2 linked regions of the Homo sapiens genome follow. The protein of the gene in region 2 interacts with the protein of the main gene of each other region in a pairwise test. Each region holds a gene or a part of one and is shown on either strand. Other genes may lie near its edges. The genes, in order: PALS1 and EPB41L5.

Region 1 (15,844 bases), on a different chromosome or scaffold from region 2:
CATGTATATGAATTAATATACAGGGGAAAATAATCAGTGTTTCTAGAAATCAGGATGATGTTTATCCTTGGAGGGGATGGGATGGGTAGTGATGGAAAGAGACCAGGTGGGGCCTCTGAGGTGTTGGTGATATGATGGTTGTTGATTTGGATGCTAGTTATACAGGTCTGTTTAGTTAGTGAAAATTCACTATGCTATACACTTATGATAATGTGTATTTTTTGTGTATCAAAAGTTACTCCCAAAAGGCATAATAACATTTAAGTTTTGCTGGTAGCTGTTTAACTTTTATATCTTTGTATTTTTAACCAGATCATTTTTTAACCTTAGTTTCAGTTTGTATATTAGGACTCAGCTTTATTTCCTATTTATAGAAGTTAATAAAATATTCTTTGAAATTAAAAAATATTCTTTAATGACAAGCCAAAAATTTTTTAAAAAGCCATTTATCTGTCTATCTATCTATCTATGTCTATCTTTGTCACTTAGCATTTTTTCCAATTTCATATAGTCTGTCATCGACAGTACTCATTTTAGTCAGTGTCTCAAGTGCTTAAAGAGCGCTTAAAAAGTGCCCCTTTTGGGGTAGACTGGTATTACTTTTATTACATATAACCTCAATTATGGTGAGAGTAAAACACTTAAAGCTAAGGCCAGGCGTGGTGGCTCGTGTCTGTAATCCCAGCACTTTGGGAGGCCAAGGCAGGTGGATCACCTGAGGTCAGGAGTTCAAGACCAGTGTGGCCAACTGGCGAAATCCTGTTTCTACTAAACATACAAAAATTAGCTGGGCGTTGTGGTGAGTGCCTGTAATCCCAGCTACTCGGGAGGCTCAGACAGGAGAATCACTTGAACCCGGGAGATGGAGTTTGCAGTGAGCCAAGATTGTGCCACTGAACTCCAGCCTGGGCAACAGAGCGAGACTCCGTCTCAAAAAAAAAAAAAAAAAAAAGCCAAAGCCAAATAATATTTGGATAGAAATGGACCTTGAATTCTTAGACTGTTTGTCTTTTGCTTGGTTCGTTGAGCCTGAACTTGGAATTTAACCTATGTGTGACAGAAATGCTCACTGCAAATATGTGGGCAGAAATGCTCATTACAAATTTGTGTGAGATCTCATTAGATGAAGTAGATTTCTTATAGATTTTGGAAGTGTCACATGCAACTTGCCCAGGTTAGGTAAAAATTAGACATGGGGAAATTAAAGAGAATTTTAATTCCTTTATAACTTCTTAGAAGTAAGAATAGTCTGTCATATCTTACAGAGGCATATTGGAAGAAATGGCATACAGAATAGCTTATAAAGTTCATGAGAGTTACTACCTGCCCTTAATGCTAAGTAGAATAGCACAATTCTTTGATTTATTCTGATTTCCAAAAACACATTATTAGCAAAAATTATAACTTGTACCGTTAATAATATGTCAAAGCCTACATAGCATACAAATAAGAATTGATTATAAACTTGATTTAGTTAATTTTAGTCGTTGATAGTGTGCTTGTTTCATGAACATATCCTTTAAAAGAAACGCCAAGAGAGTTTAAGGCATAGTTGGACTGACAGTGGGGTCAAGAGACAATGACAGCCCCAGGGAAGCTCATATTTACCTGCTTAGATGAAGAGATGTGGTAAGGTAAAGTGTACCTTTTCTAGTAGCTGTGGTTTGGAAATTGCATACCTTATTGCAGAGTCATTGTTTTCACAGGTCAGGATTCTATTCTATTTCTGCTTCTCTCAAGCTTTTGAGGCACCTTGTACCTCAGCTTGTAGCTGCGAACAGTGTTGTGGATATCCTTGTACATATCTGCAAGTCAACAGAGAAGATAACAGATCAGCCTGAAAAAATATTGCCCAAAAACACTGTTACTTAACACCCTTCTTCCAACTACAATTTCTTTGCACTGATGAAAAATTGTGGCCAAGTGCAGTGGCTCACACCTATAATCCCACCACTTTGGGAGGCTGAGGGAGAAGGATCGCTTGAGGCTAGAAATTTGAGATTATCCTGGACAACATACTGAGATGCTGTCTCTATTAAATTTTTTTAAAATTAAAAAATAATAAAAAATTTGTAGCATTTAAATTGTATTCATATGAAACATTTTATATTGCCATTTATTGTTGTTTTTGCCCTTTTTATCTTTTAGATCCATGTAAAAGCTCATTTTGACTATGACCCCTCAGATGACCCTTATGTTCCATGTCGAGAGTTAGGTCTGTCTTTTCAAAAAGGTGATATACTTCATGTGATCAGTCAAGAAGATCCAAACTGGTGGCAGGCCTACAGGGAAGGGGACGAAGATAATCAACCTCTAGCCGGGCTTGTTCCAGGTAAGACACAATATGGTAGAAAGTACATAATATTAAAAGAACATTGAAAATGCAAGCCTTCACAAAGAAAAACTCACTCTTTCATGCCTCTATTTAATAAAGTATTCCAGTTACTTTTTCGTGTAGTTGGGTTTTTATGTTGTACCTGCAGCGTAAGTATATTAAATAGAATGTGGCCAATTCTTTGGCCTTTAGAATGGAATTATGTATAACTTCAGCCAATCCCATATTGTAGTACATTTCCTGTATACATATTAAGATGACCGTATTATCGAGGCAATACAACTTGTATTATACTATATACTATATACTATGACATTAATTGGAGCATCAACATGATTTTTGAGAAGGAAAGATGCATAACTTTATAAGGAGTCAGGAAAAGTAACATCATAGAATTTATTGTACCAAACGTGATCTTAGGGCAGAAACAGGATGCTCCAAATTTTTTATTGATGAAACTATCCCTAACTTAGACTAAACTAAAACTTTAGCTTACATTATAGATTAAGATTATTAAGGGGACATGTTTCTGAGAGTTAAGATGATACAAAATAGAACAAAGTACAGTCATGCATCACTTAACGACAGGGATAAGTTCTGAGAAATGTGCCATTAGGTGATTTCATTGTTGTGCAAACATCACTGAGTGTATTTACACAAACCTAGATGATATAGCCTGCTGTACAGCTAGGCTATGTGGTATAGCCTATTCCTCCAACCACCATCATATATATGGTTGGTTGTTGACTGAAATGTTGTTATGCAGTGCATGACTGTATGTAGATATAATTATTTTCTACAAATGGCTCTTACAGTTCCCAGGATGGCAGTAGAATAAAGAAAGGAGAGCAGAACTAAGGGAAGTTTAATAAGCTATCGGAGAAGGCAAAGGAATACATACAGGATGATAAAAATAGGGATATAGAGTAAAGGGATAATAATTCATCCATTTATTTGTTAATAAATGCTGTTATGTCTGCACCATGTAAAGCACTTTGCCTGGTGCTGAGATAAACTTCGCTTACATACTTTACTTGAAAGCATATCCATTAACACTTATGTATATTTTTTTCTTCTGTGTCCCCTACTTTATAATATTTTCATGATATTGTCTCTGTTATAATTCTTTCTACTGTATATGCTCAGTTTATAAACTTCTTGATGTCAGAGGCCAAGTCTTATTTGTTTTAAATCCAGATAATATATGTTAAATTAATGAATAAAAGATGATTTTAAAAGTTCTCAGAAAACAAACAAAAATTAAAAAAAAAAAAAATAGTTCTGCCAGAACTGCTGTTTCTGAATTAGACCTTTCAATGCTTTGCTGTAATGTTTTTCTGGCCTTATCTTTTATCTACAACCTTTTTTAGCGATCATCCCTCCTACTCACACCAGAAGATTTTAAGCATAACAGATTTGGCTATAGACTTAGCCTTACACTGGATTTGACAACAAGCAATAGTTTAGGGGAAAAGAAGAAAAGGAGGGCATGAAAAAAAAGACTGAGAAATATTGACTATGAGATACATAGTAGGAACAGAGGAAGTTGTCCAAAGATTTTAGAATAAGTTATAAGGAATCTCTTTTATCTCTGTAACTAAGCCAAAGAGACTTTTCTGGGTACAAGAGATTTCAACATAATATTTACATTTATTCTTTTTGAGTATAAGGTCACAGAAAGCTTCAAATTTCTCACTTTAAAACTCAGAGGCTAGAAACAGATTTTGTCTATATCAGTCATATTTTAAGGAAGGAGGAATGGACTTCTTACATTTATTTTAGAGTATGATGCTAAAACCCGTGATTCTTCAGAGTAACAGTTACAGGACATTTCTCTAGAATCTTGGAGTGTTGGGTAGCCATTGTGGTTCTGCCTCAGGCTTGTGCCAAATATCAGTATGGTGTCTTCCTACCATGCCGAACTTTAGCCCATAAATGTTTAGAACTAGTGTTTGTTGATAGATTGATTTTCTGAAAGTATATAGATTCCAATGATGACATTTCTAAGTCTTTTTATAAGACTAAAGATCTGCCTTAGAGTTTGACGATGGCTTTCCATCAGAATTAGACAGATTTTTTTAAGAGGTCATTATGAGGCTGGCCCTGGTGGCTCACACCTGTAATCCCAGCACTTTGGGAGGCTGAGGTGGGAGGATTGCTTGAGCCCAGGAGTTTGAGACTAGCCTGGGCCACATAGTGGCATAGCTGACATAATGAGACTTTGTCTCTACAAAAAATTTAAAAATTAGCTGGGCATGGTGGTGCGTACCTGTAGTCCCAGCTATTCAGGAGGCTGAGGTGGAAGGATTGCATGAGGCTGGAAGGTTGAGGCTGCAGTGAGCTTTGATCACACCAGTGTAACAGAGCAGTCTCAGAAAAAGAAAGAAAATCATTTCCATCTCTCATTAATTTCTGCCTCTATTTCAGAATAGCCTATAGTTCATACTACAAAAAGTGCCACAGAAGTACATCATTGTAATGTTTTACATTTTTAATATGTAAATGATTAAAATTACTTTGTTCTTGATTTTTAAAAATCGGTTACTTATTTTTAATTTTTTTTTTTTTTTTTTTTTTTTTTGAGACAAAATCTCGCTCTGTCTCCCAGGCTGGAGTGCAGTGGCATGATCTCAGCTCACTGCAAGCTCCGCCTCCCGGGCTCATGCCCTTCTTCTCTCTCAGTCTGCTGAGCAGCTGGGACTACAGGTGCCCACCACCACGCCCAGCTGATGTTTTGTATTTTTAGTAGAGATGGGGTTTCACCGTGTTAGCCAGGATGGTCTTGATCTCCTGACCTCGTGATCTGCCCACCTTGGCCTCTCAAAGTGTTGGGATTACAGGCATAAGCCACTGCACCCGACCCCTTTAAATTTTAATACTCTTAAAATTTTCCTTCTAGTAATAGTTACTTGTACTAAGAATACAGTCTTGGCCGTGCACAGTGGCTCATGCCCCTAATCCTGGCACTTTGGGAGGCCAAGCAGGAGGATCACCTGAGATTAGGAGTTTAAGACCAGCCTGGCCAACATGGTGAAACCGAGCCTCTACTAAAAATACAACCATTAGCTGGGCATGGTGGCGGGCCCCTGTAATCCCAGCTGCTCGGGAGGCTGAGGCATGCGAATCCCTTGAACCTGGAAGGCGGAGGTTGCGGTGAGCCAAGATTGCGCCACTGCACTCCAGCCTGGGTGACAGAGCGAGACTTCGTCTCAAAAGATAACCAGGCTTCCTTTAATGCTTCTTATGTGTATGGAAGTCAGTATTAATCTTTTTGTTAGTACACTTACGAAATGCACTAAGTTCTACAGATTATCCCCACCTATGTAGAATTTGCTTATTGATTTTTAAGAATCTCTGGCTTTACACTGAAAAAAAGTAGATTTAAAAATAAAATAAAAAAGTGGAACCTCAACGTAATTCAGAATCTTCTAAGTGAAGCCACTTGTATCCTATAGGAAAAGACATATTTGATTTAAAGTAGAAGTCGGAAAAGAAAACCTCTTTCAAGGTCAGGAACCTTGAAAGCCTCCTATATTAAAATATTAATTTTGTAAGGAAAAGCACGTTTTCCATTTATATAATTGGTAACTTAAGGGTGGAAATAAAAAATGGCTAACACATATACATACACAAAAGAAGAGGAATTGAGAATAATGCATGCAAGGGAATATACTGAATGGTTTCTTGGAATTGAATATGGAATTGAATATGTGATGAATGCGCACATGTTGTTTTGGAAAAGTTAATTCCTAGAATTGATATCCTTAATTTGAGATAATTCTAAAGGACCTAGAACCATTGTAAGATCCAGGATAGTACTTTTCCACAAAGTAAATGCTCAATGAAACCTTTTAAAAAGTTGAACTATTAAATTTTTAAATATTTTAGTAGATGATATGTATTCTAATAATACATATGGGATTGATTGAGCAGAGTTAATATTTTAAAAATTTGGAGGCTTACACATCATAGCTGACATTACTCCTGTGTTGGCAAAAGGATTTGGAAGGGAATATAAGTGAAGAGATATGTCTAGTGTTTTCCCTTCTTGATTAAAAAAAAAATTCTTATCCTTTTATCTTAAATATTTTACCCTTCTTTTTCTTTCTGCTATTAAGGGAAAAGCTTTCAGCAGCAAAGGGAAGCCATGAAACAAACCATAGAAGAAGATAAGGAGCCAGAAAAATCAGGTTAGACACTTGTATTTGACATAAGTAAATGGTTTCTTGGGTCTTCATCTGGAGCCATGTGTGAATCTGCATATTAGAACCGTGAAGAAGTACTCAGGGAAAGAGTGATACAAGAGGCAAAACTGATTATCTCAGAACTGTAAAGAAAGGATAAGATTTAAGTATTAAAGATTATCTGTCTATACTGTGTAGTTAATTGAAAATTGTAAATGCTTTCCTGAAAAATAGTCTTTATACAAACAGTGTAATAAGTATTTATAAAAGTAAATTAAAAACAAGCTGGGTGTGGTGGTTTGCACCTGTAATCCCAGCACTTTGGGAGACTGAGGCGGGAGGATCACTTGAGGCCAGGAGTTCAAGACAAGCGTGGCCAACATATGGAGATCTCGTTTCTGCAAAAAAATTTAAAGAATAAATGAATGAATAAATAGAGTTCTTCAATTTGAGTTATGTGGTTTTGTTCACGGGAACACATTTATAGTTATGTTTATGATTGCTCAACAGGAAAACTGTGGTGTGCAAAGAAGAATAAAAAGAAGAGGAAAAAGGTTTTATATAATGCCAATAAAAATGATGGTAAGTTCTACTCTCAGGGATAGGTGGAATTATATCTGAAAGGAGTCTAAACCTAGTCCTGTTTTGCACCTTAATGTTAAATATGTGCTTGAGAAAATCATTTAGTAGAAAGTATTTTCTTTTGGAATCCTGTGAGTAAGGCAGTGTTTTGAATTCTGGGGAAAACTGATACAAAAATTCAAGTACTATTTAGCATATGTAGTATTAAATTGACAGTTTCCTGTAGTTTTTTTCTACTTAAACTCTTTGCAAAAATTATACTTCTAACAAATTCTTACAGAACATACTTGAAGTAAAAACTATGTCCTCTACAATAGCTCATGTCACAGAAGCAACTCATTCCTGAGAACCCACTACCTGCTGGCTAAGTCAGACACACAAGAGAATTTTAGTTTTATTTTGATTGATTGCTAAGATTAAAAAGCTCGAAAGTTGTAGCTTCTCTTAAAATCAAAAGCTCTGATAATGTTGGGCTAGTATTCCTAGGTGACAACAGTCTGCTGGACCTGAGTGATGACTGTTGCTCTTATATCAAGCACCTGGTGTCTAGTTTAACAGTCTCTACCACTCCCAGTGTTTTATTAACCCAACCTGATTTACTGATTTTATTACCTCCTTAGTTTGTTTTTATGGGCATTTGAGTTTGCTACTTCTGTTTGGTTCACATTAGAAGCAACCCAAATAATAAAGCAAAGGCTTTCCTTCTTATGTAATTTATAAGGCTTTTCTGTCAAGAATTTGAAATATTTGGGAGCAGCACACATTAAACTAATAAAGATAAAACATTATAGATCATTATAATATTCCATAAAAGCTAAATGAGGTTTGATCAACTTTAATAAATTTTTTTCTAAAATAAATATCCTTTAATGCTAATTGACAGATTATGTAACTAAAAAGATTTAATGAGTTTTAAATTTTATCCTCTATATTTGTGATTAATATCTCTTTTATTTTTTGAAACAGACTGAAGTTAACTAGTCCAGCTCTAAGAGCTACTGTACTGTAGAAAACGTGGCAAATCTGAACCTTATGGATATACACACTGAGTCTATAAATTAAAATGCTACCAGTCTTGATTATACGTGTTAGAATAAACTCAGATTTTTCAGAGAAAATCATTTTGAGAGGAGAAGGAATTACATTTGCTGTTTATGATGATGTCATCATCATGAATATTTTTAAATAAATAACTACAATTCATAATAACTGCTGTATTCCAGGGCAGTAACTATATGATGTTGTTCTCACAAACTCCTTGAGGTTACAGAGTAATAGATTCAAGTTTAGATATTAGGCCGGGCGCGGTGGGTCATGCCTGTAATCCCAGCACTTTGGGAGGCCGAGGCAGGCGGATCACGAGGTCAGGAGATGGAGACCATCCTGGCTAACATGGTGAAACTCCATCTCTACTAAAAAATACAAAAAATTAGCCAGGCGTGATGGCGGGTGCCTGTAGTCCCAGCTATTCGGGAGGCTGAGGCAGGAGAATGGCGTGAACCCGGGAGGCGGAGCTTGCAGTGAGCCGAGATCGCGCCACTGCACTCCAGCCTGGGCGACAGAGCGAGACTCCGTCTCAAAAAAAAAAAAAAAGTTTAGATATTAAAGTGATTTGCTGAAATTCTTAACAACTAATACATGATTGGTTGAGCTGGAATTTAAACAAGTGTAGTTTGAGCTCCTGCTCTGTGCCAGGCTCTGTGCTGAGCATTGACAAGCCTAAGATGGTCCCCTAACCTCATGGAAATAGAGCTGAGGGAGTCTGACTTCACATCTGATGCTCCTTCACAGTCAGGAGAAGTAATATGAGTGAGGACTTGGCAGGCTACTAGTTATCTGCTTTTGTTCTTACCACTTGACAGCTCTGGTTTCATCTGGATTATGGGCTTTAGGAATGTTACCCCACCTGTCATAATTTATACCTCATTTTGATTCATGACTCTGGGTTAGCATTCCAGAGTAGAGTAAACATAAATGCAGAAAGTGGAGATAGCATGCATATGGCCTGTTTTCAAGTTATACAACTACAGCAGGGGTATCCAATCTTGTGGTTTCCCTGGGCCACATTAGAAGAAGAATAGTCTGGGGCCACACGTAAAATACACTTAACACTAGAGATAGCTGATGAGCTAAAAAAAAAAAAAAAAAAATTGCAAAACAATCTCACAGTGTTTTAAGAAAGTTTACAAATTCGCATTGGGCCCCATTCAAAGCCGTCCTGGGCTGCATGCAGCTCATGGGCCACGGGTTGGACGAGCTTGAACTATAGGAAAGTATTCCAGCTTTCTCTGATAACACTGGTTGTAGCCACTATATGTAAATGTCGGTCTATGCTAGCCATTGTATTCAGCGTATACATTATGTCTGATTCTTAAAACAACCTTCTTAAGTAGAATATTAATATCTGCATTCTTCAAAAATGACGGATATTACTCTTACTAGTTCATTCCCTGGTACCGCATCCTTATTCAAAGTATTGACTGCAAATTAGCTGTTTAATGTAAGAATCAGTATAATTATATTGTATTAGACATTCAAGCATGAATTTTTTATTTCAAATATGAAATGAGATAAAAATTAATAGAAGGAGTATTATATTGTTGTCTGATTCATTTTCATGATACCCTAGCAAGGATGTAATGACAATAAATTGTGCTTTTGTCTAATTTTGGGTGAAGATCTATGAGTATTTATATCTTTAATACATGGCCATAATTTTGTTTGAAGAGCTTAACTTTTTTTTCCCAAAGATTATGACAACGAGGAGATCTTAACCTATGAGGAAATGTCACTTTATCATCAGCCAGCAAATAGGAAGAGACCTATCATCTTGATTGGTCCACAGAACTGTGGCCAGAATGAATTGCGTCAGAGGCTCATGAACAAAGAAAAGGACCGCTTTGCATCTGCAGTTCCTCGTAAGTTTGAATGCATTCCCATTTTCCTGTGCTTTTCAATTTACCAGCTCAGAACCTAACTATATCATGTAGGGAAATTTTTTATTCATTTCATTAAAACACTGTTGTCAGTGAAAGAGGAACTTTAACCAAAGATTTTGACAATTTTTAAATTAAAAATAGTCATTATTAAGAAATTTAAATTTGTCCTTCAAGTATGTACTGATTATTTTCTAAACAAATTTCAGTTTGGGCCCCTTATAATTTCCTGTTCCATAGAGAATCAGTTCCTGCTGCTTTAAAGTGATACAGAAGATAGAAACTTAGGCATAATCTGAAACAGAAGTTATAAGATTATATGGTACCTAATCTTATGGAGATAAACTTTAGGAGAAGATGAGTAGTAGTGTTTTAAATGCAGGATGAAGTAACTTGAAGTGTAAGCATAAAATGTATTGAGATAAATATAACTATTACTAAGATACTACAAACTCATTTTTGTTCATTTTTCAATCTACAAAAAATAAAAACAATGTTAAACATGTAGGCACTTAGCATTTTCTCAGTTTATTATTTTATAATCTGTGTTACAAAATAGAAATTCTTTCTGACTAGCAGAATTATCCCCTGTCCTCACTCTAAGCCATGCCTGTTATTTCTATCTGATTTTGTTTGCCTAGATACAACCCGGAGTAGGCGAGACCAAGAAGTAGCCGGTAGAGATTACCACTTTGTTTCGCGGCAAGCATTCGAGGCAGACATAGCAGCTGGAAAGTTCATTGAGCATGGTGAATTTGAGAAGAATTTGTATGGAACTAGCATAGATTCTGTACGGCAAGTGATCAACTCTGGCAAAATATGTCTTTTAAGTCTTCGTACACAGGTAAAGCTAGAACTTTGTTTTAGGGTTTGAACTTAGAAGGAATGTCATATAGAGTAATCTAGTGGAAGCTATATTTTGGTCCAAGAACAGCGCGACCTAATTAAGTTCTCATACGGTTTTTCCCACTGATTTGCTATCTGAAATCACACAGGTTGCTAAATCTCTTTCAGTTTCCTCAGAGGGAAAACATATACATACTTACATATACAGGTTGACTATCTCTTATTCAAAATGCTTGAGACCAGAGTGTTTTGAATTTCAGAATTTCTCAGATTTTAGAATATTTGCATATATATAATGAGCTATCTTGAGGATAGACCCAAGTCTGAAATTAAATTCATTTATCTTTTATATACACCTTATTTACTTAGCCTGAAGGTAATTTTATTTTTCCTGGGGATATTGAATAAACTGTCTGCTCCTGTATTTTGACTATGACCCGTCACATGAGGCCAGGGTAACGTTTTCCACTTGTGCTGTCATGTCACTGCTCAGAAAGTTTCAGATTTTGCATTTCAGATTTTTGGATTAGAGATGTTCTGCTTGTATATATGCTTGTATGTATGTTCTGAAACTTAAAATACAGTAAATATAGTATTGGTAGTACTTTAATTTGAGTCTATGAAATAATTTCCCTTTTCTGATTCCGATATGAGAAAAATTAGAAAATTTCAAGATTATTTTTATGGTTTAAATGCCATTGTTCAAATATTAACAAGTATCACAGTGAATGCTTGGTTGTATGAAAATAATGAGACCTCAGTTTCACTTATTTGGCAGACTAAGCAAAAGTGTAAAATTACTAACTAGTGCCTCTTAGCTTTCTATTTAAAATGATAATTTTAGGACGCCAATGTGGGTGGATCACTTGAGTTCAGGAGTTCCAGACCAGCCTGGGCAACACGGCAAAGCCCCATCTCTACCAAAAATTAAAAAAAATTAGCCAGGTGTGGTGGCATGCACCTGTGGTCCCAGCTGCTTGGGAGGCTGGGGTGGGAAAATCGCCTGAGCCAGGGAGGCGGAGATTGCAGTGAGCTGCACTGCACTCCAACCTGGGTGACAGAGTGAGCAGAGTGAGACTCTGTCTGAAAAACAAAAACAAAAAAACCTAATTTTAGAAACTTGGAGTTTTTAAGAAACTCCAAATGTTACGGAAAATTGTTTAATTTTTGTAGACCATACAGCTTTAGCATACGACTTTCCTTAATGTGGTAGAATCTGCTGCTCATGTCAAATTAGGCAACATAGTCAGTGGTCATTAAAGAGATGTACATAAAGGAGAATTGACTCTAAAATGGCTATTCTAAAATAGTAATTAGGGATTTTTGTTTGTGTTTTAGTGGACAAATGCACTTAGGCTCTACTATTTCAATTATAAATTTTTGATTTAAGAGAAGTATACATGTTTTTACTAAATTTCTTTAGAGTTCTTTATATTATTTGGGCAAACAGGTTTTTAAAATTCTTATTTCTCCAGAAAAAAGGGCTAACAGATTTTAACAAAGAACTCAGCATATTGTTTTAATCATCTTAATGTTTTTAGATAGCAATGGCATATTCCTATAATCTCCATTTTGATAGAGCGTGTCAGTTTGAGCACACACAGTCATGCATTGGTAATCAAGTGAAAACTGCAATCTCCAGATTCAAACATAGTCTACTTTTTCTTGGATGTGCTTTTCTTGAATTGTCTTGCACATGTGAAGTTATGTTCTATGATTTTGCTTATATTTAGTGTCTGGCACATAGTAAGGCAACTTGTATGATTCTAATTGCTCCAAAATTGATTTTTAATATGGTTATTGTAATCTGTATGTGATCTTATTATTAAAACTAGGTGTTTTAATATCACATAGTTGTCATCCTTCAGTATCATTCACTTACATTTCATTACATAAAAGAGCAAGCTAAAATTATATGTATATAATATGTATTATATGTGTATATATATACATATATACACATATATACACGTGTGTGTGTGTGTGTGTGTGTGTGTGTGTATATATATATATGGCTTCACAGTATATTCTTACAGTGAATGGTAGGATCTTAAAAATATTGTGAATTGGGCCAGGTGCAGTGGCTCATGCCTGTAATCCCAGCACTTTGGGAGAGACCAAGGCAGGAGCATTGCTTGAGGCCAGGAGTTCAAGACCAGCCTGGACAACAAAGCGAGATCCTGTCTCTACAAAAAAGTAAAAAGTTAGCTGAACATGGTGGTGCATGCCTATAGTCCTAGCTACTGGGGATGCTGAGATGAGGGGCCACTTGAGTGCAGCAGATTGAGGTTGCAGAGAGCTGTGATCACACCACTGCACTCTAGCCTAGGCAACAGAGCAAGTCCCTTAATCTAATATATATATATATATATATATCAGTATTATTAGGAAGTAATTAAATGATGCAAATTATTTTAAAAATCAAAATGTCTCTTTACAGTCATTGAAGACTCTCCGGAATTCAGATTTGAAACCATATATTATCTTCATTGCACCCCCTTCACAAGAAAGACTTCGGGCATTATTGGCCAAAGAAGGCAAGAATCCAAAGGTAAAGTTTTCACACTATTGTACTATTCCATTGAAGGTAAACATGAAACAGTCCTGGTCTAATTTGTCCTGGTGCTTAAAAGCTACATTAGCTTGAGCTTTCAAACTGATTATTTTTTCTGTAATATTACTTGCCCAAAAATTGCCATGGTTGCCACTGGGTTGGACTATGGCAGCTTTCCAAAGTTGGGGCATCTACATTTGGTAACCTTTGAGCGTCTTCACATGGGTCTGTGACATTTCTAGGGAGATGTGACTGCCACCAAAGTTATCAGCCAACTCTTCAGGATTACTGACTTTTCTCTGTAGATACTCCACATTTTCAGGGAGCCAAATTTGAGTGCTCTTGCTTTTCTCTTCTTTTTATCCCACTGAAACTTTATGTTCTGCTTTTTTTCTCCCTTTGGTCTTCTCACATGGTTTGGAACAGAAAAATTTTTTTAAATTATTTTAGATCTATGCTAGATATGGTTGAGGTAGTCCATGTCATATTAAACATTAATAATTGACTGATAACATGTTATTAATAAGACAGCATTGACTTTTTATTTAAATATGTAAGATGGTAACTCTGTCAGGTGACTTACTGTATCAGAGTAACATGTTCTTCCTTGTTTTTTTTGCTCCATATTTATTAAATAGATCTACTTTTGAGAGGGCTCACTCAGATTGCCTCATTTCATTGACTATGCCTTTAAATCTCCTTAAAGATAGTCATTAAAAGCATATTTACACTCCTTTCTTTTGATTGTTTTTTTTGTTGTTGTTGTTGTTTTGGTCGTTGCTGTTTTGAAATAGGGTCTTACTCTATTGCCCAGGCTGGAGTGTAGTGGCATGTTCATGGCTCACTGCAGGCGCAGACTCTGGGCCCACGTGATCCTCTCACCCCAGCCTGTCCAAGTGGCTGGGACTATAGCCATGCACCACCATGCCTGGCTAATTTTTTATGTATTTTATAGAGACAGGGTCTCGCTATGTTGCCAGGTTGGTATTGAACTCCTGGCCTCAAGAAACCCTCCTTCCTGCCTCAGCCTCCCAAAGTTCTTGGATTGCAGGTGTAAGCTACCACGCCCAGCCTTCCTTTCATTTTTTTTTTTTTTTTTTTTTTTTTGAGACTGAGTCTTGCTCTGTCACCCAGGCTGGAGTGCAGTAGCGCAATCTCGGCTGACTGCAAGCTCCGCCTCCCAGGTTCACGCCATTCTCCTGCCTCAGCCTCCCTAGCAGCTGGGACTACAGGTGCCCACCATCATGCCTGGCTAATTTTTTTGTATTTTTAGTAGAGACAGGATTTCACCATGTTAGCCAGGATGGTCTTGATCTCCTGACCTTGTGATCCACCCGCCTTGGCCTCCCAAAGTGCTGGGATTACAGGCGTGAGCCACCAGGCCCAGCCTCCTTTCATTCTTGACTGTCCACCACAACACATTAACCCTTCCTCTTCCTCTTCACCCTCCAAAATATCTTTTTTCACTCTATGTCTACTTAACATTTCTTAATCTATATGTGAGGTTAAGAAATGATATATATATATCATCCTACATGATGAGCATAATTCTGGTTGCTTTGTCTAGGCTAAGTAGGCTAGCTGGTTAAAGTAGTGCTGCACCCCTTTTTCATTTCCGCCATATACCTACAAATTCTTAAGTAACTGGGGTCAGAGTATTTGTTGTCCATAGCACTTGGGATGATACAAAGGAAATAGGCAGCATGGTCACTGGCTGTTCTTGAGGAGGATCACAATATAACAAGAGAAACGAGATTAATACTGTGTAAAATTTAGTGTCCAATAACTACTTTGGTAGAACAGAAACTCCATGGTTGTTCAAGGAAAAGGATGCGCACTAAGGACCAGAGTGTACTCCATGCTTCCTGTTCAGCCTAATTTTCCACTTCCTAACATGCACACTTATTTCTTTTTAGGCTATCTTTTTTTCCAACAAGGATTTGCTATCATATGAAGGGCCATAGACCATTCCAAAACATGTTAAACATGTTAAGCATCTTTTTTTTTTTTTGAGACAGAGTCTTACTCTGTCGCCCAGGCTGGAATGCAGTGGCGTAATCTTGGCTCACTGCAACCTCCGCCTCCTGGGTTCGAGCTATTCTTCTGCCTCAGCCTCCCGAGTAGCTGGGATTACAGGCACCTGCCACCACACCCGGCTCTTTTCTTTTTTTTTTTTTTTTTTTGTATTTTTAGTAGAGACTGGGTTTCACCGTGTTAGCCAGGATGGTCTCGATCTCGTGACCTCGTGATCCAGCCTCCTCGGCCTCCCAAAGTACTGGGATTACAGGCGTGAGCCACCGTGCCCGGCCAGCATCTTTCTTTTGGTTGGTCTCTGGCCGTGTTCTAATGGAATTTTTATCTACTTCACTTTGAATTGGCCATCCTAAAATTTCAATTTAGGTCTGAT
Region 2 (16,799 bases):
CTGCAGGAATATGTGTGGCGGCGCGTTGTGCTTCTCGGAGTCGTTCCTTCTCTGCATGTTTACGCATAGACCGACGCCCTAGTGTTCTACGGAAGAAACTCAGCATTTTTGTCACTATAAAAACAGAGAGAAAAAGATGGCATCAGGAAAAAAATGAGATTCTCCACAACTTGCAGTCAGTCAAATGGCATTATTTAGTCAAGTCCTGTGAACATTAGTAGAAATGCTACTAAAAAGGACACCTGGGCTGGGTGCAGTGACTCACGCCTGCAATCTCAACACTTCGGGAGGCCTAGGCAGAAGGACTGCTAGAGCCCAGGAGTTCAAGACCAGCCTGGGCAACATAGTGAGAACTAATCACTACTAAAAATAAAATTAGCCAGGTGTGGTGGTGCATGCCTGTGGTCCCAGCTACTTGAGGGGCTGTGAGGCAGAAGGATCACTTGACCCCAGGCAGTCAAAGCGGCAGTGAGCTGGGATTGCGCCACTGCATTCCAGCTCAGGCAACAGAGCAAGACCCTGTCTCAAAAAATAAGTAAATAAAAAACAAAAAGGGCTCCTGGTCAAGTAAATTTGAAAAAAAAAATCATTAAAACTGGCTTTTCATAAATATTTCAAGACATATTATAAATGATAAATATACACAATTTTTGTCAATTAAAAAGTAAATTAATTAATTTAAAAAGCTGGTTACTTTAATTCAAAGTTTTAAAAGACTTGTATGTATAAGACACAGCCACAGTTTGGAGCTTTCTAAATTTACCGGACCATTTTATCAGGAACTGATTTGGCAGGAGAAGGCAAACATTCATGAAGTTCATCAGGTCTTCTAAATAGATAAATTATATGTACAACATCTTGTATATCCCAAGATGATGTCAGACACTAAGGTATCCTTTGATGATCATAAAAATTCTGAGAAGTGGCCGGGCGCGGTGGCTCACGGCTGTAATTCTAGCACTTTGGGAGGCCAAGGCAGGTGGATCACGAGGTCAGGAGATCGAGACCATCCTGGCTAACATGGTGAAACCCCGTCTCTACTAAAAAAAAATACAAAAAAAAATTAGCCGGGCGTGGTAGCAGGCGCCTGTAGTCCCAGCTACCGGGAGGCTGAGGCAGGAGAATGGCATGAACCCGGGAGGTGGAGCTTGCAGTGAGCCGAGATGGCGCCACGGTACTCCAGCCTGGGCGACAGAGCAAGACTCCGTCTCAAAAAAAAAAAAAAAATTGGCCGGGTGTGGTGGCGGGTGCCTGTAGTCCCGGCTACTGGGGAGGCTGAGGCAGGAGAATGGCGTGAACCCGGGAGGCGGAGCTTGCAGTGAGCTGAGATGCCTCACTGCACTCCAGCCCGGGTGGCAGAGGGAGATTCTGTCTCAAAAAAAATCCTGAGAAGTTCCATTTCTTTTCTGAGCATTCATAATAAAAACACAAAAACAATCACCTATTTCAGCTAAAATACAGATATAATTCAAATTTCCTAAGTTTTGTCAAATATTCTATTACATACAGATTTTAAATAACTACTTAACATAAATCTTTTTAATGTCAAAGTACTTTAATGCTTTTTTCCTTAACTCTATAAAGAACATTAATGTTAATCAAAACAGTTAAAACAGGTTTTAAAACATAGCACACTAAATGGAAACACAAAATCAAAGTCACTTTGCTATCCTCATGTGTTTCATTTGCACAACAAAGAGAGTTTAAGTACACATAAGCCAACAAATAAGCCAAAAAGACTATTAATTCCAAAGAAAACAAGAAGCTGTGCAGAAAAGGAAAAGTAAATCACAATACACTACATGACTCAGCTGCTAATGATTTCAATGTCAAATACTAAATACTGATCGAACAATAACCACAACAGACAGGAGGTACATAATAAGAGGTAGGGGATACAGATATGGAAAGAGCTAATTCCTCATGATGCGTAACAGCAAGCCAACAGGTCATTACTAGAATTTAAAAATCAACAATTAGCAGTAAGAGCATTTGATTTAAAATGTGAAAATGATTGCCTCAGGAGAGGGAGCAAAAGAATTCAGGAGAATGCTGTTTTTCAAGAGAAGCCTTCAGATAAAATGACTTTTTCAACTAGATTTATTTATAAACCCGATAAAATCCGATTTTTAAGATAGTACCATATTAAAATGTCTATACACTGAAGATTAGCCTACACATTTTACACATGTATACTCTTGCGTAATTAGGTAAACTAATCCCAAGGAAATAACTAAAATTTTAGTTAGATAACTTTCCAGTGTTCCAAACACTCATATATAATACCTGGTCCCAGTCTCTTTCTCCAGATTTTTTTTTCCAGGTATTTCTCCCTTTGGAACTTGCTATCCAGTCTCATTTCAGCTGCCTAAGACTGTACTTGTTATCCCAGATTTCTAAAATCCTGTGTCACAGAATCCCTACATATTCCTTTTAACTCCACCAATATCTCCCAAGAAACATTTTATGATATCCCACCAGTGCACTCCAACCTGAGTGAGACTGAGACTCTACATCAAAAAAAGAACAAAGAGCAAGATACGAAAAAGTCCTAAAAGATAATTTAAAAGATGTTCATAAAAACGAACACCTTTAACAGTATCCAAGAAAATCCAAATGAAAAAAAATAAGATATTGTCTGTCATTTAAAGACTCAAGATAGTGTAAAAAAGAATGTGAGAAAAAATAATCCTCCTACGTTGGCCTTTTTTGGAGGGAGACTTGACCATGCTATTAATATTTTTTTAATTCTTTTTTTTTTTGAGACAGTCTCAACCTAGTCCCCCAGGTTGCAGTGCAATGGCGCGATCTCGGCTCACTGCAACCTCCACCTGCCGGGTTCAAGAGATTCTCTTGCCTTGGCCTCCTGAGTAGCAGGGATTACAGGTACCAGCCACCACGCCCAGCTAATTTTTGTGCTTTTAGTAGATACTGGGTTTCACCATGTTGGCCAGGCTGGTCTCAAACTTCTGACCTCAGGTGATCCGCCCGCCTCGGCCTCCCAAAGTGCTAGGATTACAGGCGTAAGCCACCTCGCCGGACCAATACTAGAAATTTTAACATGCATATTCCTTACTCAACAGTTCTATTTCTGGAAGGATAACCTAAAGAAAAAAAATCACACATGTGCTTTAAGTTGTAGGAACAGGATTTTTCGGAGCATAACTGATTTAAGAAAATTTTAAATGTGTTCATCAATGTGCAAACAGTTAAACAAGTTATGGTACACACAACAGCATACAATACAGTTGTTTTATTTTTATGTTTTTTTTTTTTTTTTTTTAGAGACAGTCTCACTCTAGCACCCAGGGCTCACTGCGGCCTTCATCTACCATGCTCAAGGGATTCTCCCACCTAGGGCTACGGGCACATACCATCCCACCGGGCTAACGTTTTTTCAATGATTTTTTGTAGAGACAGGGTCTTGCTACTTAGCCAGGTTTGTCTCAAACTCCTGGCCTCAGGGAATCGGATTCCTCCCACCTCAGCCTCCCAAAGTGCTGGGATTACACGCATGAGGCACCAAGCCCAGCCATAATACAGTTGTTTTAAATAAATAGTTGACTTAGATATGACAAAATTTCTAAGTGAAAAATCAAATCACAGAACACTGAAGAGAGTTTCATCCTACACGGAGATGGGATACATGCACACACACAGACACGCTAAACAGACACACACGTAAACTGTTGAGATTCTCTCTGAAGAGGGGCATGTCAGAAGTCACAACAAGAATATATGGCTGGGTACAGTGGCTCATGTCTGTAATCCCAGCACTTTGGGAGGCTAAGGCGGAACTGTTGGAAGCCAGGAGTTCAAGACCTGCCTGGGCAACACAGCAAGACCCCACCTAATTTTTTTTTTTTTTTTGAGTCTCGCTCTGTTGCCCAGGCTGAAGTGCAGTGGCGCGATCTGGGCTCACTGCAAGATCTGCCTCCCGGGTTTACGCCATTCTTCTGCCTCAGCCTCCCAAGTAGCTGGGACTACAGGTGCCCGCCGCTACGACCGGCTAATTTTTTGTTATTTTTTTTAGTAGAGGCGGGGTTTCACCGTGTTAGCCAGGATAGTCTCCATCTCCTGACCTCGTGATCCGCCCGCCTCGGCCTCCCAAAGTGCTGGGATTACAGGCGTGAGCCACTGCGCCTGGCCTAATTTTTTTTAATGGAAAAAAAAAATAATATGAATGGATCACTAAAAGTTGTGGGTTTTTTTTTTTTTTAATGATTGTGAAAAAAGTTTTCTCATACTCACTTTTCCCCTCCCACCTGCACTCTTCCAATTGCGCTCTTCATGTTGCAGCCACTGGATTTTTGGCAACCACAAATCTGATCCCTGTTCTAAAATCTTTAATGGCCCTGGTCCTAGATGCAGCTCCTCCTACTTGCCTGACCCATCTGTCAGCCTACTCCCCTCTGTTTGCTCTGCTCTTGTACTCTTGCTGCTCGGCCGGAGAGTCTTTTTAATTCTGGACCATTTTTCATTAGCTGTTCCACCTTTCTGGATTGCTCTTTTTCCAGTTGACCTCTCTTCCACCCGCTCCCATTTCACTGGACTAACTTCAGACTTATAGTTGAAATGTCTTATTCTCAGAAAAGCAATCTCAGACTTGTGAGTCTAAATTCGACATCTCTTTCAGTACTCTTAGCCTTTTCTTTATAACAAAGAAATTGTAATTAAATATCTGTTAATTATTATCTTTTTTACTGACTACTTCCCCCACTCACACACAAGGACAAAGACTTCGTCTGGCTTGTTCACTACTTTGGCCCAACAGCTGGCTTAACCCGCATCTCGCCTGACACACTAGAATGACACAGTGGAATTTTTGGATGGTAGGTTTATGTGGCTTCCAAAAAACAGTAGTTTCTACTCTAGTTCCTAACTAGAAGGATTTCCTTTAGAATCATAAAATGCAAATTTAAGCAATCCTATCAGAAGTTGGTTAAAAAAAGTACCCAAAACCCAAAAGTTAGTCATGAAATATGTATACTCTTACATGACTGGTGGCCACAATATGGTTGGTTAATTGCTTTTTGATAAAGCAATATAACATACAGCAAATGCCATTTAAGGTAACACTATATTTTGTCCCAGTATTCCCAATAAAGAAAATGCAAGCGAGTAATTCAACAGCAGTTACGCATATCGTTTTCGAATAATGTTAACCTATTTTCTAAAGCCTGCACAGCATATTACATGCACAAATAATCCAACAAGGTTAACTAGAGCTCAGCAACGGGTTATGTTAGAAACTGAGTTAATGCAGTTGTGGGTTACATTACAAATGTACACGGTTATGGGAATTTTCCCCGTAATTCTTTAAAAACTTTTAATATTAGTCTAAAATATTGCCAAACGTTTTAAGAGTTGGGTCTCGCTCTTAGGTAGAATTCGAGTAACCACAGACACAATTAACATTTACACACCAAAGAACCCATCATTAGCACGACAACCGTCCCGGGTGGGGGCGGGGCGGGACCTTCAGACCTCGTCTTTCATGGGAACACACCTGCCTCTCCTTTCCCAAGAGACTGAAGTTTTTCTCAAATACAGGTTAGCTCGAAAAGTCCACCAAGACAGTGACACAAACTCAGTTCGTTTTTCCCCTTCCCTTGCGACTTTTGTCTCTCCCGCTGGACGGCAGCCCAGCGGACCAGCGAGGGGTACCCGCGGCTCGGGGAGCGCGTCCGCTCGGCAAACATTAACCCGGCTGCCCCGGGCCCTCCGCCCCGGCCCGTCGCGCGGTATCGACCGAAACTCGGCGGCCCTGCCTCATTGGCCGCCGCCGCCCCTCCCTCCGGCGGGATTAATGCCCTGCCGGCCCGACGAGAGAGGGGCCGGCCGCCCTAGGGTCTGGGTGCGGCCCCCGCCCGCCTCCCCGGGGACAAGGCCGCTACCGCAGGCGCGGGCGAGGAAGGGTCCACTCGGCTAGGAGCGCAGCGGACTGTACTGCGGCGCCGCCGCCGGGCCTCGCGCTTACCTGAGCTGGGGACGGCGCAGCCCCGGCGACCAGAGCGGGGAAGAGCCGAGCAAGGCTGAGAAAGGGGCGGCTCCTCGGTAGACGCCGAGAAATGGCGCCCACAACGAGCCCACCGGCTCTAATCCCCGGAGGACCCCGACCTCCCGCCCGTCCACCCCTTAAAGCTCCCTCCCAGCTCCGCCCCCAGGGCGGAGCGCTCCGCTCTTAAACGGGCGATGACACCGCCCCGGAAATTGGCCGGCGCGGCGACTGGAGAGAAACCGGCGAGGCCGGGCCCGGCCGGGCTGGAACTAGCGCCAGCAGCCGGGCGTCCGCGGCTGGTTTAAAGGGGCGCTGCCGAAACCCAGTTCCCGCTGCGGCCCTCCGCCCGCGGAGGAGGCGCCCGTCCGCAGACAGACCCCAGTTAGTCCTATCACGAAGGAGGCTGGTGGAGCTGGCTGCTAGATTCATTCATCCATTCGTTCAAGAGATTAAATCCTTCGCAAATACTTATTGAGAGCCTGTCACGTATTTCCTCCCTTTTTCTCCTTTGTAGGGATTAAAATACATTTAAATCTCTGCTGTTAAAGTGACTTTCACTCTACTGGGGAAACAGTAAACAAATAGGTGTCACAAGGTGATTAAGTGTAAATGAGGAAAAATAAAACTGGGAAAGAGAAATAAAAGATTACTGCTTAGCAGAGTGTGGTCAGGAGGGTACTCTAACAAGGTGACATTCAGTCCGTTCATTCTACAGGTAATTGATTGAAGTGCCTACTTACTGTGAGTTCTGTGTTCTAGACACGAGATACGACAGACAACCAAGACAGACAAAAATCCTTCCCGGAGTTTACGTTATAGCAGGAATATAAACGAGACATAAAATAAACGAGATAAATTAGTGAAATTAAATACTGTCAGACATTGGTAAATGCTAAAAAGAAAAGTACAAGTAGGGAATAACCACAGGCAGTGAGGGTTTGCGATTTTACATAGCAGGTCACAATAAGAAGGTGGCATTTGGCTGGGCGCGGTGGCTCACTCCTGTAATCCCAACACTTTGGGAGGCCGAGGCGGGCGGATCACGAGGTCAGGAGATCGAGACCAGCCTGGCCAACACTGTGAAACTCCGTCTCCACTAAAAATACAAAAATTAGCTGAGCCTGGTGGCGTCCGACTGTAGTCCCAGCTACTCAGGAGGCTGAGGCAGGGGAATCGCTCGAACCCGGGAGGCGGAAGTTGCAGTGAGCCCAGATCACGCCACTGCACTCCAGCCTGGCGACAAAGCCAGACTCAGTCTCAAAAAAAAAAAAAAAGGTAGCATTTGAATGAAGACCTAGAGGAGGTGTGGGAGGAACCCTGTGGCCATCTGGGGAGAACCGAAGGGAACAGCAAGGGCAAAAGGCCCTGCAAGGGGACAGGTCTGTCTTTTCAAGGAAGTCCAGTGTGGCTAGAAGTGAGGAAGCAAGAGGAAGAGGAGGTGACAGTCAGAGAGGAAAGGGGTAAGATGTAGGGCCTTGTGGGCCCTGGCTAGAGCTCTGAGAGAGGTGGGGGAGCCACTGGAAGGTGTTACCTTGAGGACCCTCTGCTTGCTGAAATGAAAAGAGACAAATACTCATTGAGCTTCTTCTCGGGATTTGGCACTGCCCACTCCTCCACCACCCCAAAACGTAGTAGACAGGCTTGGCAGCTCATCTCTGCCCCATGTGGTGTTGGCTGGGCAGCTCAACAGGTGCTGGAGCTGCCAAGGTGGTTTCACTGGTCTGTGTGGCATCTCCGCTGGGGTGGCTGCAAAGAACAGCTGAGTTCTGCCTGGGCTACTCTCTTGCAGATCCGCTGGTGTGGCAAAACAGTGAAAACAGAAGCTCTGAGGCCTATGAAGGGCTATGCCCAGCAGTCACGGAGCGTCCCTTCTGCTGCCTGTTAATGGTTTAAGCAAATCACAGAGGCCGCCCAGTTTCAAGGAGATGAAAGAGACTCTACCTCTTTTTTTTTCTTTAAATATTATTAAAATAGAGAAATTTTCCTTCTCCACCTTTTAAAAACATCTTTATTGAGATATAATGCACCCACTTAAAGTGTACACTTCCATGGCTTTGGGTATTTTCACAGAGTTGTAGAACCACAAACCACAATCTAATTGTGGAATATTTTCATCACTCTTCATGAGAGGAGCAGCATGGGTGTTCAGGGATGGGAGGAATTGTTGCTGGTCATCTTGCATCTTTATCTCAACAAAAAAACGAAATGATATGGCAGGGGGAAGCAGCAATGGTATAGATGAAACAAGAATGGGCCATAAACTGAGGCTGGGTGATGGGGACGTTAAACTATTCTATCTAAAATTTTTCATAATAAAGTCCTTTAGACCGAATGTGGTGGCTCATGCCTGTAATCCCAGCACTTTGGGAGGCCGAGGCAGGAGGATCACTTGAGGTCAGGAGTTCGAGACCAGCCTGACCAACATGGTAAAACCCCGTCTCTACTAAAAATACAAAAATTAACTGGGTGTGATGGCACATGCTTGTAATCCCAGCTACTAGGGAGGCTGAGGCAGGAGAATCTTTTGAACTCAGGAGGTGGAGGTTGCAGTGAGCTGAGATTGCACCATTGCACTCCAGCCTGGACGACAGAGACTCTGTCTGAAAAAAAAAAAAAGAGTATTTAAAAAAATACCACCTGGACACCTGTAATCCCAGCATTTTGGAAGGCCAAGGCTCAAGAGTTCTAGCTCAGGAATTCGAGATTGGCCTGAGCAACATGGTGAAAACCGTCCCAGCTACTCAGGAGGCTGAGGCAGGAGAATCGCGTGAATTCAGGAGGCGGAGGTTTCAGTGAGCTGCTTTCTCTGCACTGCACTCCAGCCTGGGCAATGCGAGTGAAACTCTGTCTAAAAACAAAACAAAACAAAAAACAACAAACAAACCCACCTGGGCCAGGTACCCCGAAAAGCATTCCTTCTTCCCAGGGGTCTGATTAGCCAGTTGGAAAACTGCAGGGTCTTCAGTGCCATCCCCTCAGCCTGTCCAGACTGTCTCTTTCCATGTTTACCTGATGTTTACTCATTTGAAAAGTTCTGGTTTATCTGATTACAGATCAGAAATGGAAGTGAATTCTGTCAATACTTATAAACATATCTTATTCTCCTAAATTGTTGAAAAGCATACCAGTTTTGAAAAACAGTGTCCTCTTCATCCATCCTGCTCAATCTTTTTTTCTATCTCCTATCAAAGATGGAACTGGGGCTGGGCACGGTGGCTCATGCCTGTAATCCCAGCACTTTGGGAGGCCGAGGCGGGTAGATCACCTGAGGTCGGGAGTTCGAGACCAGCCTGACCAATAAGGTGAAACCCTATCTCTTCTAAAAATACAAAAATTAGCCAGGCGTGCCAGTGTGTGCCTGTAGTCCCAGCTACTCGGGAGGCTGAAGCAGGAGAATCACTTGAACCCAGGAGGCGGAGGTTGCAATGAGCTGAGATGGCGCCACTGCACTCCAGGCTGAGTGACAGACCAAGACTCCATCTCCAGAAAAAAAAAAGGTGGAACTGAAGGAGGCTGTGGATGAGGTTAGAGAAATCTGTTGAGAAAGATGGTTATAGGCTAAAGGAAATATGAAGACTTGAGGAAAGGAGGATGAAACTTAAGGGCCCAAGTCATAGAAAGTTGTTCATGTTCTAATTATGTGAAATTATTCCTAATAACAAATCATTGTCTCCCCAGATCCTCTCTTCTAGACATAGGGACCCTCTGTAACACACGTTTCGTGATAAATTCACCAGAAAATTGACTTCTGCCAGAGACAGAGAAAGCCCTCTCCTTAAATATAGCTGTATCAAGGAAAAATGCATTTGGCTGGAAGTAATGGGAAATTTTAACTGTTATTTGAAAAATAAGGAGTTTATTTTTCTCACATAAGTAATCTAGAGGTAGGCAGCTATTAGTACTGGTTCTGCTCCTCAACAATGCTGTAAGGATCCTAAACCCCTTTACCATTTCTGCTTTGCCACCCTTAGCATGTTGACCTTGGTTTTCATGCTTCTAGCATACTGGCCACAGGACGGATGCTTATCTCCAGCTTTCTTGAGTTTCAGGAATAAAAGGGAAGGGGAAAAAGACCTTTACCTGAAGCCTTGTCTTTTAATTCAGAGAAGAAAGTACCAGCACCCCCTGTCTCCGGCCAGAACTACACTACCTGCCCTAACTCAGACCAATTAAAGGCCATAGGGAAAGAGAATACCATGACTGGCTTAGACCAGTCAGGATTCACCCTTGGGAGCTGGAGACCAAGGGCTCTCCTTAACTTTCTGAACAAATCCAAATTCTATTAGCCTCAAAGAGAGAATGTTGCTGAGACAAATAACTGTGGGTAGCTATAGAAGGTGCCTACCAGCCTGGCACGGCGGCTCACGCCTGTAATCCCAGCACTTTGGGAGGCCGAGGTGGGTGGATCACGAGGTCAGGAGATTGAGACCAGCCTGGCCAACATGGTGAAACCCCGTCTCTACTAAAAAAATACAAAAATTAGCTGGGCGTGGTAGTGGGCGCCTGTAATCCCAGCTACTTGGTAGGCTGAGGTAGGAGAATCGATTGAACACCAGAGGTGGAGGTGCAGTGAGCCGAGATCGCGCCACTGCACTCCAGCCTGGCAACAGAGTGAGACTCCTCTCAAAAAAAAAAAAAAAGAAGGTGCCTACCAAAACCCACTTCCTGGTGGCATTGTCTTGGCCCATGGAAAGATTTTCTTTTACTGAACTAATATATTGAACAAATACCCTCACGTGAGATTTTCACTTCTATCCTAGGTCCTGGTTTGCTCTCTGGTTCCACACAGATAGGGGTATATCCAGTTTTTGTGTAACTCATATACTGTAATTTGATGGTGGGGGAAGAGGTCTTTAGTTGGAATAACACAAATTTAAAGATTCAAAATTAGGTACAGCGTCTTGGAAGGAGGCCACACAATAGCCCTAAAGCTTAAACCAGATTTATCTTCACAGTAAATCTACCTCTACCCCTAAGAAATAACATAATCTCTCTTTCACATCACAACCCTTTAAATCATTGAAGACACTTGTCCCAAGCCTGCAAAATCTTCTCTTGTTCTGATTTCCAGGCTCTTTGCTTCCTTAGTCAGCCTTCTCTGAACTGGTCCACCCTGGTGAGGCCATTCATTCGTGTCAAAGTATGCTGAACAGATTGGCTTAGAGAGAATTCCGACATAAGAATCAGTTCTCTTGGAGACTGAAGTGGCCCTGCATTCCAAAAGAACAGTGATGGCCATGATGATATGGTAGGGAGGAAGCAGCGAATGTACCGGTGAAACAAGATTGGGCCATGAAAAGAAAATACCCTCAGAAGAGTGAGTATCATGAAGAATTTGTTTCTCAAACACTGAATCTAGGAGAGCATTATCTATTTAAAAGATGTGTACAAATAAAATAAATCAACAAACAAAACCACGCTGGTCATTGTGGCTCATGTCTGTAATTCCAGCACTTTGGGGAGGCCGAGGTGGGCGGATCACGAGGTCAAGAGATCGAGACTATCCTGGCCAACATGGTGAAACCCCGTCTCTACTAAAAATACAAAAATTAGCCGTGTGCGGTGGTGCGTGCCTGTAGTCGCAGTTACTCCGGAGGCTGAGGCAGGAGAATCGCTTGAACCTGGGAGGCGGAGGTTGTGGTGAGTCTGAGCCAAGATAGCGCCACTGCACTCCAGCCTGGCAACAGAGCAACACTCCGTCTCAAAACAAAACAAAACAAAACTAAACTAAACTAAAACCAGTCATAAGAAACTCCCATGGCCAGGCACAGTGGCTTACGTCTGTAATCCCAGCACTGTGAGAGGCCGAGGCAGGCAGATCACCTGAGGTCAGGAGTTCAAGACCAGCCTGACCAACATGAAGAACCCCTGTATCTACTAAAAATAAAAATTAGCCAGGCATGCTGGTGCATGCCTGTAATCCCAGCTACTTGGGAGGCAGAGGCAGGAGAATCGCTTGAACTCAGGAGGCGGAGGTTGCGGTGAGCCCAGATGGCGCCATTGCACTCCAGCCTGAGCAACGAAAGCGAAACTTCATCTCAAAAAAAAAAAAGAAAAAAAAGAAACGCCCATAAGAGAGACAATTTTATTAGCATATTGCAAGGAGCCTGGAGTTTGATTTGGAAGCTAAAAGGCCCCAAACAAGTTTAAGTCCTGTAAAATGAAGATGATGCCAGCTTCCCCACAGAATAGTTATGAGCCTTACACAAAGTAAATCATCTAACATGTTTTCAAAATCATGCAATACTACATATAAGACAATGCAAATTTTACAGACCTAGGAGCAAAGATAACCTTTGTGCTACAAGTGGAAGACTAGGATCTCCTGAAATGGAGCCACGGCCCAAGCCTACTTTCACGTGATTTGGTGGCTCCCTTTTACCCAGCTAAATCTTTTCTGAGCCGGAATCGCATGTTTGAAATTCCACCCTTCCCTTCTTTGCAAATATTCCTGGGAGGAGTAAGACCTTAAACTAATTCATACTAAATGATTAGCCACATTGGCTAATTGAAGGACACACTAACAGAATGGGGGAAGGCAGGGGTTGGAAGTATGCAGAGAAGAGACATGGAAGGATGAGTTGGAGACAAGTCATTTCTTTCTCCAAAGCCTCCAGGCTTTCCCCCTACTTCTGGCTACTCAGGGCAAAGGACCTAATGCATCATTTTGTTCAGGATTATCTGGAACAGTGTCTTACTCGGTAGCCTATACTCTTTATTTATACTGTTAGGAAGAAAAAAAAAATCAGAAAAGCTTTGATGGCTCCAGGCAAGTTCATGATACTGAGTAATAGAGAGGCAGAAGTGAAACTATTTCACCATTGGTTTTGCCTACTGGTGAAACCATGATGAGACTGAGACTCAGGGGAAGAAAAAGGTAGGAGCCAAGGCTCAATGCTTCTAGAAGTTAATATGTATATGAGTCACCTGGGGATCTTATTAAAAGGTTTAAGCCTGGGGTGGGGCCTGAGATTCTGCCCTACAAACAAGCTTGCAGTGTGTTGATAGTGGACATTAGTGGTCTACACATTGAGTAACTTGGTCTTTAGGTGACTGTTCCCATACCTGTGACTACTGCTTGACACCAGGGGCAGGGAAGGTATTAGGAGACCTTGTGGTAGAAAGATCAGTGGCGACCACCTGCTACTGACTCATTTGGACAAGGCATTATCTTTCCTGGCATCGGTTTTCTCATGTGTAAAATGAGGTAATTAGGCCGGGCGCAGTGGCTCACGCCTGTAATTCCAGCACTTTGAGAGGTTGAGGCGGGCAGATCACTTGAAGTCAGGAGTTCGAGACCAGCCTGGCCAACATGGCGAAACCCCGTCTGTACTAAAAATACAAAAAAATTAGCCGGGCGTGGTGGCAGGTGCCTGTAGTCCCAGCTACTTGGGAGGCTGAGGCACAAGAATCGCTTGAACCCGAGAAGCAGAGATTGCAGTGAGCCAAGATCGCACCACGGCACCCCGGCCTGGGTGACTGAGCGAGACTGTCTCAAAAATAAAAAATAAAATAAAATGAGGTAATTAGAAGAGAGGATTCTAAGATCTCTTCAAGATCTTAAAACTTATTATTCTAAACCTGTTCCTATACATAAAGAAGATTTTATTTAATGTTACATTAATTTCAGATACAAAAAATCTGGGTTTAGAGATTATTAGAGTTTTGTTAAAAATAACTCAAACCTCAAGTTTCCTTTAAAGAAATAATTTTCTCATCACACTTTAAATGCCCATTTTCCAAAATGTGTTTGAGAAATATGAGGTACAGGTTAAAGTTATGACAATACTTTTTCAAACATATAAATTTGTATAGTTCCTTTAAAAATAGTTTCTCTCAAAGAATATTGAATTTGGCTTCAGAGTTAGACAGACCTTCATTCTGGTCTCTGCACTCCATATACTAGCTATTTAACTTCCAGAAGGGCACTTAAACTCTCTGAAGCTCAATTTCCTCATTTATAAAATAGAGATAAAAGTTGAAAGAATGAGCTGGGCGTGATGGCTCACGCCTGTAATCTCAGCACTTTGAGAGGCCGAGGTGGGTGGATCACCTGAGGTCAGGAGTTCGAAACCAGCCTGGCCAACATGGGGAAACCTCATCTCTACTAAAAACATAAAAATTAGCCAGGCCTGGTGGTGGGCGCCTGTAATCCCAGCTACTAAGGAGGCTGAGGCAGGAGAACCACTCAAACCTGGGAGGCGGAGGTTACAGTGAGCTGAGATCGCACCTCTGCACTCCAGCCTGGGCAACAGAGTGAGACTCTGTCTCAAAAAAATAATAATAAATAATAAATAAATTCAAAAAGTTAAAAGAATGTAATGCAAAGATGGAAAATGTGCAGTTTAGGGACATTATTCTTAGCACCGTTAATGCCAGAGAACAATGGAAGAGTGGTGGGAGATGAAGCTGGGTACTTAGGCAGACACTACTTCACAGGGCTCTGGATTTTCTCATTATAATCTTTATCCTCTGAGGATTGTTTTGGTTTCCTGGCAACAGCCAATAGTCAATCAGAATACCGTTCAGTGAGTATGTTGAAAAATAAGGTATCTAAAAACAATGTATTGAGAGAAGTTGATGGAAATGGCAGAGTAAAAATCTCTGAAAATCATCACCATAGAAGCAACAAAAGGCTGTAAAAAATGTTCAGAATCAGTTTTTTCAGAACTCTGCATATTAGCCAAAGACATATAACAATCTGGCAGATGTTTATTCAGGAAAAATGGCTGAATCTTGATAAGAGCAGTGAGTTTTAGGGCATTTAAACTTGCACTATTCTAATCTCCCTCCTTCTAGTTCCACAACAGCCTTAAAAAATGCAGCCTGGCAGCCCCTGGAGGAGGTAAAACACAGTAGCAGCTTCTTCAAAGTCCCATTCCCAGAGAACTGTCACTACATGATGTCTGGTGGTGCCCTAGAAAACCCCATGGACAAAACTGTCTTTATTTGACGTGATTCAAAGCTCATTCAGGTGGCCTGGCACAGTGGCTCACATCTGTAATCCCAGCACTTTGGGAGGCCGAGGTGGGCAGATCACTTGAGGTCAGGAGCTTGAGACCAGCCTGGCCAACATGATGAAACCCTGTCTCTACTAAAAATACAAAATTAGCTAGGTGTGGTGGCACATGCCTGTAGTCCTAGCTACTCAGGAGGCTGAGGCACGAGAATCTATTGAACCCAGGAAGTGAAGGCTGCAATGAACTGAGATCGCGCCTCTGCACTTCAGCCTGGGCCACTGAGCAAGACTCTATCTCAAACAACAACAACAACAACAACACAACCAAAGCTCATTCAGGACAAACCGCTTTTTTCCAGGGTATTTGCTGAAGACAACATTATGGATGCCTGAGGCAGCTGAGTAAATAATAGGCCAACAAAAACAACAAATAATCTCAAAATCAAAAGTTGGGGATGAGAAGTCCTTAGGGTCTTTGAAAAGCTCTGATATATTTAAGGGAATCTAGAAGGCCACTTGCATGCAAAGGGCTATGAATGTGACCAGTGCTACAAAGATGGTCAGGAAAGATCTGAGAACACCCTGAAGCCCTAGTGAGCAGGAAGTGAAAAGCTAAGCCAGAGTTGTAAATTACCTGGCTAAATGTTGAAAGGCCGGCGCAGTGGCTCATGCCTGTAATCCCAGCACTTTGGGAGGCCAAGGCAGGCAGATCCCTTGAGCTCAGGAGTTTGAGACCAGCCTGGGCAACATGGTGAAACCCTGTCTCTACCAAAAATACAAAAATTAGCCAGGCATGGTGGCATGTGTCTGTGTTTGTGGTCCCAGCCGCTCGGGAGGCTGAGGCAGGAGGATACCTTGAAGCAGAGGTTGCAGTCAACCGACATTGTGCCACTGCATTCCAGCCTGGGTGACAGAGTGAGACTCTGTCTCTAAATAAATAAATAAATAAATAAATAAATAAATAAATAACGTGTGCCCCAGCAAACACATAAAGCCTTTTAGCGAAGACTGGGAGAATTACTGCTTCCAGGCATTTAGGGAAATCTCTATCCAGTCATCGGGTGATCACTAAGATAACTGAACAAAGACTTCCATAGTTACATACAATAAAGAATACAGACTTCATAGAATTAGCTCAGGAAAGCTGTGAAACAAACAAATAACAACAACAACAAACAGCAACAACAAAACACCCTAGAGAAGGGGAGATTCTAAATGCCAAAGTTTTCACATTATGTTCTTTTTTTTTTAATTTTACTTTAAGTTCTGGGATACATATGCTGAACACGCAGGCTTGTTACATAGGTATACATGTGCCATAGTAGTTTGCTGCACCCATCCACCCATCAACCCTTCATCTAGGTTTTAAGCCCAGCATGCATTAGGTATTTGTCCTCATGCTCTCCCTATCCCTGCACCCCACCCCCCGACAGGCCCGTGTGTGATGTTCCCCTCCCTGTGTCCATGTGTTCTCACTGTTCAACTCCCACTTATGAGTGAGAACATGCGGTGTTTGGTTTTCTGTTCCTGTGTTAGTTTGCTGAGAATGATGGTTTCCAGTTTCATCCATGTCCCTGCAAAGGACATGAACTCATTCTTTTTTATGGCTGCACAGTATTCCATGGTGCATTTCACATTATATTATTTCAATGACCAGTTTTCAAAAAGAAAACATTAGACAAGGAGCAAGAAATTATAGCCCATACACAGGGCAAAAACCAGTCAATAGAAACTGTCCCAGAGGAAGTCCAAACACTGGACTTATTAGACAAAGACGTTAAATCAGCTGTTTGGTTGAAAAACCAAATGAGGGCCTGGCATGGTGGCTCAGGCCTGTAA

Evidence for each region.
Region 1: the proteins of EPB41L5 (region 2) and PALS1 interact in binary tests that used the Homo sapiens proteins (3 or more experiments, as listed by UniProt).

Annotation. Positions count from the first base shown.
Region 1 is NC_000014.9:67,310,379-67,326,222, forward strand, and holds part of PALS1 (protein PALS1), read left to right. Parts: intron 1-2,148; coding exon 2,149-2,332; intron 2,333-6,453; coding exon 6,454-6,525; intron 6,526-7,029; coding exon 7,030-7,101; intron 7,102-9,851; coding exon 9,852-10,019; intron 10,020-10,678; coding exon 10,679-10,881; intron 10,882-13,323; coding exon 13,324-13,434; intron 13,435-15,844. UniProt on the Homo sapiens protein: Plays a role in tight junction biogenesis and in the establishment of cell polarity in epithelial cells.
Region 2 is NC_000002.12:120,002,392-120,019,190, reverse strand, and holds the start of EPB41L5 (band 4.1-like protein 5), read right to left. Parts: upstream 6,115-16,799; 5' UTR 5,981-6,114; exon of another isoform or gene 5,510-5,980; intron 262-5,509; exon of another isoform or gene 243-261; intron 115-242; 5' UTR 107-114; coding exon 1-106. UniProt on the Homo sapiens protein: Plays a role in the formation and organization of tight junctions during the establishment of polarity in epithelial cells.